Linked DNA regions of Homo sapiens. Changing the gene in region 1 together with any one later gene gives a genetic interaction. Each region holds a gene or a part of one and is shown on either strand. Other genes may lie near its edges.

The links.
Region 2: changes in BAD (region 1) and BNIP3L together harm fitness more than expected from each alone (negative genetic interaction), as found in Homo sapiens cells (one large-scale study listed by BioGRID).

What each region holds. Positions count from the first base shown.
Region 1 is NC_000011.10:64,278,166-64,281,665, reverse strand, and holds part of BAD (bcl2-associated agonist of cell death), read left to right. Parts: intron 1-3,500. UniProt on the Homo sapiens protein: Promotes cell death. Successfully competes for the binding to Bcl-X(L), Bcl-2 and Bcl-W, thereby affecting the level of heterodimerization of these proteins with BAX. Can reverse the death repressor activity of Bcl-X(L), but not that of Bcl-2.
Region 2 is NC_000008.11:26,386,054-26,389,553, reverse strand, and holds part of BNIP3L (BCL2/adenovirus E1B 19 kDa protein-interacting protein 3-like), read right to left. Parts: intron 1-3,500.

The sequences.
Region 1 (3,500 bases):
TTGGTGAGAAGCACCACTGGAGCCAAGGCCACAGGGATGATGGGAAGAGAGTTCCAGGCAGAGAGAAGGGCAGATGGTAAGGCCTCGAGGGCAACACCTGCTCCTGGCTAGGGTGGGCCTAGGGGAGGGGGTTTAGGAAAGGGTATTTGGAGACCTAAAGTTGAAGGTCATTCTAAGGACTCTGGCATTGCCTTTGAGTAAAAACCTGGAAAGGATTTGAGCAGAGGCAGCATGGTCAGATTTAGACATTCAGAGAGTCACCAGGGAGGTGGTGAGAAGTAGCTGATCCCTGGATTTATTTTTAAAGCAGAACTGGCAGGATCTGCTGATGGACTGGATGTGGGGTGCGAGGGAAAGAGAGGAGTCAGGATGATGCCAAGGAATTTTAAAAAAACTATTAGGCTGGGCGCGGTGGCTCACGCCTATAATCCCAGCACTTTGGTAGTTCGAGGTGGGCAGATCATGAGGTCAGGAGATAGAGACCATTCTGGCTAACACGGTGAACCCCGTCTCCACTAAAAATACAAAAAATTCTCTGGGCGTGGTGGTGGGCGCCTGTAGTCCCAGCTACTCTGGAGGCTGAGGCAGGAGAATGGCGTGAGCCCGGGAGGCGGAGCTTGCAGTGAGCAGAGATTGCACCACTGCACTCCAGCCTGGGTGACAGAGCAAGATTCCGTCTCAAAAAAAAAATTATTATTGGCCGGGCGTGGTGGCTCACACCTGTAATCCCAGCACATCGGGAGGCTGAGGCAGGCAGATCACTTGAGGTCAGGAGTTCAAGAACAGCCTGGCCAACTTGGTGAAATCCTGTCTCTACTACAAATACACAAATTAGCTGGATGTGGTGGTGGGCGCCTGTAATCCCAGCTACCTGAGAGGCTGAGGCAGGAGAATCACTTGAACCCAGGAGGTGGAGGTCGCAGTGAGCTGAAATCCTGCCACTGCACTCCAGCCTGGGTGACAGAGCAAGAGTCCGTCTCAAAAAACAAAAAATAAATAAAAATAAAATAAATTAGGCCAGGCGCGGTGGCTCACGCCTGTAATCCCAGCACTTTGGGAGGCCGAGGCGGGCGGATCACGAGGTCAGGAGATCAAGACCATCCTGGCTAACACGGTGAAACCCCGTCTCTACTAAAAATACAAAAAATTAGCCGGGCGTGGTGGTGGGTGCCTATAGTCCCAGCTACTCGGGAGGCTGAGGCAGGAGAATGGCATGAACCCGGGAGGCAGAGCTTGCAGTGAGCCGAGATGGTGCCACTGCACTCCAGCCTGGGCGACAGAGCAAGACTCCGTCTCAAAAAAAAAAATTATTATTATTATTATTATTATTATTTTATTTTATTTTTGACATGGAGTCTTGCTCTGTCGCCCAGGCTGGAGTGCAGTGGCACCATCTCAGCTCACTGCAAGCTCTGCCTCCCGGGTTCACGCCATTCTCCTGCCTCAGCCTCCAGAGTAGCTCGGACTACAGCCTCCCGCCACCATGCCCAGCTAATTTTTTTGTGTGTTTTTAGTAGAGATGGGGTTTCACCATGTTAGCCAGGATGGTCTCGATCTCCTGACCTTGTGATCCGCCCGCCTTGGCCTCCCAAAGTGCTGGGATTACAGGCGTGAGCCACCGCGCCTGGCCAAATTATTATTAATTTTAGAGACAAGGTCTTGCTATGTTGGCCAGGCTGGTCTTGAGCTCCTGGCCCCAAGTGATCCTCCCACCTTGGCCTCACAAAGTGCTGGGATTACAGGCATGAGCCACAGTGCCCAGCCAACACCAAGGAATCTGGCTTGAGCACCCGGTAGGATGAAGTTGCTTTTAATGGAGAAGAAACACTGAAGGGTGAGGGAGGATCTGGAGGCTACCCTAGAGGGTGGGATAGAGGGGGATTTTTTTTTTTTTTTTTTTTTTGAGATAGAGTCTTACTCTGTCACCCAGGCTGGAGTGCAGTGGCACGATCTCGGCTCACTGCAACTTCCACCTCCTGGGTTCATGCCATTCTCCTGCCTGAGCCTCCCCAGTAGCTGGGATTACAGGCATGCACCATGCCCAGCTAATTTTTGTGTTTTTAGTGGAGACGGGGGTTTCACCATGTTGGCCAGGCTGGTCTCGAATTCCTGACCTCGTGATCCACCCGCCTCAGCCTCCCAAAATGCTGGGATTACAGGCATGAGCCACCGCGTCTGGCCGCTAGAGGTGGCTTTTAAGCATCTGGTGGGATTTTTAGCAGGGTGCTAGTGGGAGCTGGCAGGGACTTGGAGTCTGAACCAGAGTTGTGCTTGTCTCAGTCCAGTTAGGGGTAGGGGCTTCAGGTGTGTGCAAAGGAAGGAATGGTAGATGTGGGGTCCAAGCTGGCTGAGCTTCAGGGAAGGGAGCAAGCCCTGGGAAGCCGCAGCATCGTTGGAGTTGGGGTCCCGGGGGCATGATCCACACAGGTTGGGTCAGCTGGTGGGAAGCTTGGGATGGAGTTATTTGATGGTGACAAGGCCTAGGTTATGTCCCTGGGAATGAGTCTGAGGGGAGAGTGGGACAAGATCATGGTAGAAGGAGTAGCAAGGTACAGAAAGGAGACAGGGTGCTGGTGGAGTGGCAGAGGACAGGAGTAACATTCTGCACAGGCCAGGGACGACACCTCCCCCCAGCCCCAGCTGCAGACCCGTAGGAAAGAGGGCTGCGGGAGAAGACAGCTGCCAGGTGAGGACAGAGCTGGATTTCTTAACCTTTTGATTTAGTTTTCAGTGTCTCCAAAAGCAAGTGGTTTCCCAGAAAAGATCAGCAAGTGCCAGTGCCCCGCCAGAGCCACGGGGCCTCTGCCCTCTCTACCTGCGCAGAGCAACTCACACTTGGTTCGGTCACTCCTCATAGTCCCTGCCACCAGGCCCCCCTGCTGGATGGCTGAGGTGTCCCCAGGGCAGGGACTGCAGCCACCTTGTGCTGTGACAGCCCACACAGCCCAGTGTCTGAAACAGGTGTGGACAGTGGAGAGGCAGAAAGAAGCAGCCCAGTGCTAGCCCCTGGGCCAGACTGCAGGGTTCAAACGTGGCTCTACCCTTCCTAGCAGGTTGAGCTTGAGCAGGTTAATTAACTCCATCTGCCTGAGTTTCCTCATCTGTAAACGGGAATAGAACTAGTCCCACCTCGCAGGGCTGTGGCGAGGACCTGATGAGTTAATATAGGAAAAGTGCTTGGAAACAGTGCCTGGCGCAGAGGAGGGGCTAAGTGTTTGCGGCTCTTATTATTAGAACTGCCATTGTTATTATTTATGTATATATATATTTATATATAAATATATATATATAATTTTTTTTTCCAAGATGGAGCCTCACTCTGTCGCCCAGGCTGGAGTGCAGTGGTGCAATCTCGCCTCGCAGCAACCTCTACCTCCCAGGTTCAAGTGATTTTCTTGCCTTTATGTACATTCTTGGCTTTATATATTTATAAAGCCTCAAATTTCTGGGCTCCAGCCATCCTCCCACCTCAGCTTCCTAAGTAGCTGGGACTACAGGCG
Region 2 (3,500 bases), on another chromosome or scaffold:
ACCAATTCCTTAGGACTCTGCTGCCAAACGACACAGTTGTACAACATCTCCATGGCCTCATTCTATACACACATAAAATGGACACAGGCTAGAGAACTCAAAATGGATTAACAAATACAACTAGCAAAGCTAAGAGAGATCTAACATTGAAGATAATTTATCTCGAGTGCCTCTGGAGTGTATAAGAAATACGCCAAAAGCATCCCTAAATTTAGAGCTCTGCAACATATTTCAACTGGAGAGAAAGGGGGTGGGGGAGAGAATATGTATATAAAAACAGTTTTTTTTTCTGACTCTCACTGTTTCTAGGATTTTCAAACTTATTTTTAAACCAATGGGACCAGTTCTTCTTGTATAGAAGCCTAATGTGTACAATAGTAACAAACCAAAACCCAGAGCTGCTCTGACAGAAGCAGAGGTAAGGAACCAGGAGTTCCAGATAGGTCTCTGTGGAAGTCAGTCTTCCCTAAAATACAATTAATATTCACTTGAAGTAGGCAATCGAAGAGAAAAAAGGGTGTAACAAACAATATCAGGTTTTCTGGTCCTTACTTTTGTTTTTCTTTTGAGACAGTCTTGCATTGTCACCCAGGCTGTAGTACAGTGGCACAATCACAGCTCACTGCGGCCTTGATTCCTGGGCCCAAGCAATCCTCCCACCTCAGCCTCCCAAGAAGCTGGGACTACAGGGCACATGCCACCATGCCCGACTTATTTATTTATTTATTTATTTATTTATTTATTTAGTAGAGACAGGGTCTCCCTACATTGCCCAGGTTGGTCTCAAACTCCTGGGCTTCAGCAATCCTCCCACCTCAGCCTCCCAAAGTGCTGGGCTTACAGGTATGAGCCACTGCTCCCAACCTGGTTTTTACTTTTTTGAAGGACTTTCAAATCAATGTCTGGATCCTATTTTCTTCATTAAAAACACATAAGCAATCATAATCCAATATATACTTTTGGAACCTGAAAGAGACATACCTAGAAAAGCTTAGTAAAAGTGATCTCTGCTGTGGCCTCCACACCCTGAATCATAACTGAAAGCATTTCTACTTAAGGCGGACAATTTGTACTTGGGATACACTGGTATAGTGTGGTCAGGGGCTGAGACTGAAGCCAGGCTCCCACTCTCAGTTATAGCTGTTACCCTCGCACAGGGTACTTAACCTCTTTGTGCCTCAGTTTTCTCATCTATAAAATAGAGATAATAACTGTATCTACCTCGAAGACTTTGTTAGGAGGATTAAATGAATATAGCACGCAGAACAATAAGAAAGGTCCCTAAGAAAGTTTTAGCTACTACAATTATATTCTATATCATAGAAAAACCATTCCTTACTGGAAAAATGTGTTCCTAGAAAACGTAAACATCAGTACATAAAATTAAAAATTAACATCTCTCCCAACCTCCCGTTCCTACTCCCAAAGGAGCCACTTTTGACAGTTTCACATGGAGACTTGCAGAGTTTTTGTCAATGAAATATAGGTCTGTTTTTGCTTTTGTTTTTATAAAGAAATGGAACTGTACCATACACACATACTGACATATTCTGTAAGTCGTTTTTCAGATGTCTTCCCTATCAATATATACTGACATTCATTCTTTTGAACAACTGCATTGCATCTCATCTTTTATAAAGATATACCATACTTTAACCATTATCTAAATGGCAATGGTTAACTACTACTGAGATGGTTGTTTCTAATACTTTGTTATTACAATTAGGGCTTCAGTGAACATTCTGGAGAATAATTTGACAATAGGTATTAACAGCCTTAAAAGTGTAGATTTCCTTTAATTAATTAAGGGTAATTCTCTTTCAAAAATATCATCTATGGAAATACATAGTGGTACAGAGAAAGTTATGTACACAGGCATTAAGAGGCTACATATTAATCTTTTGAGTAACACATAAAAAAGCAAATGTGTCTTCCTCAATAGATGAACAACACGTCTGTTTCCCATCACCCGATTTGTTCCTGATTTACAGCCTCAGAATTTCTTAGTGTTCTAACTCTACCAATCCTCACAAAGTCCCTTTTTACTTGGAAAGGAAACAAGGCTAGATAAGAGGTTTGTGCTGTCCAAGCAACACAAAGTAGAAAACAACCACAGAGTGAATTCTCCTCCTAATGATCAAGCTTGAAAACTAAAAGCTGGAAGCTTTCTCCATTATCTAAAAGACTTTACAAACTAAGAGCTGTTCCTTATGCCAATTTGTACATAACATACAATGACATGAGATATTTTCTGGTTTGGGTTTTTGGGAATGACTAAGAGATTCAGAGAAACTTCTGTGAATGCTTCTCCGTTCTCTAACATAATAGACTGTGAAGGGTGGTCCAATAATTGTGATTATACTCATTGCCGTATGTTGTATAATCTTTACAGTTTTATAATCACTAGTTCAATCCTCTTGCAAGAAGAAGAAGAGAGGAGCTTTGGGACAAGGGGAGGAGAGAATGAAGAGTATTTCTCCTCATCTTTCCCCCTAACTTTTCAAGGCCCACATGTAACTCTTTTGAAATTTCATTATATTTACATTCTTTCCTCAAAGCTTTTCATTCATTATTGAAAGGAATCCAGACCAGGCCAACCTGATGCTGAAATCCAGACCAGGCCAACAAGAGTTACTGGCATTCTTCTTAAATAAAAAAATAAATAAATAAATTTTTGAAAAGTTGGTCTTTTTGCAGCAGTATGTATTTACATACAAGTTACGTAGGTATTCAAAACATTATTATGAGGCAGTGACAATCCATGAAGGCCTTAAGAGCACTCTTCATAACAAGAAAGCAAGGACATTGTGCTTGAAGATGTTTCTATTTAAAAAAAAGAGTTTGTGACCAGCTTGGGCAACAAAGCAAAACTCCATCTCTACAAAAAATAAGTTAGCCGGTGACCAGCCTGGGTGACAAAGTGAAACTCGAACTCTACAAGAAATAAAATAATTAGCTGGATGTGGGGGTGCACACCTGCAGTCCTAGCTACTTGGGAGGCTGAGGCAGGAGGATCACTTGAGCCCAGGAGGTCTAAGCTGCCATGAGCTATGACTGTACCACTGCACTCCAGTTTGGGTGACAAAGCAAGACCCTGTCTCAACAAAACAAAAAACAAAAAAGAACAAGAAAATTTGAAAAGAAAAAAAAGGCTATACTTCTCAACAACAAGAATTATACTACGATTTACACTACTACTTTGATTTTCCTTATTCGGCCCTATTGAATCTTATTCAAACATTCTTAAGGAAGTTGATAGTTTTCTTAACAATAAAACAAACTGGACAACATCCTTTTGACTTGGAAGGAGTTTGGGTATTTGCCCTGTAATTTTTAATGAAAGTGAACAGTCTCTCCACAGCGGTAAAGTTAAAAAAAAATCACAAAAATACTTCACTATTCAAATACTTCAGTAATTTGCTATTGAAACCCTGCTTTGACCCCTGAACCAAAGATAAAATCCCAAACGCAAGATAATCTGTACATTTCTTCTCCTGTTT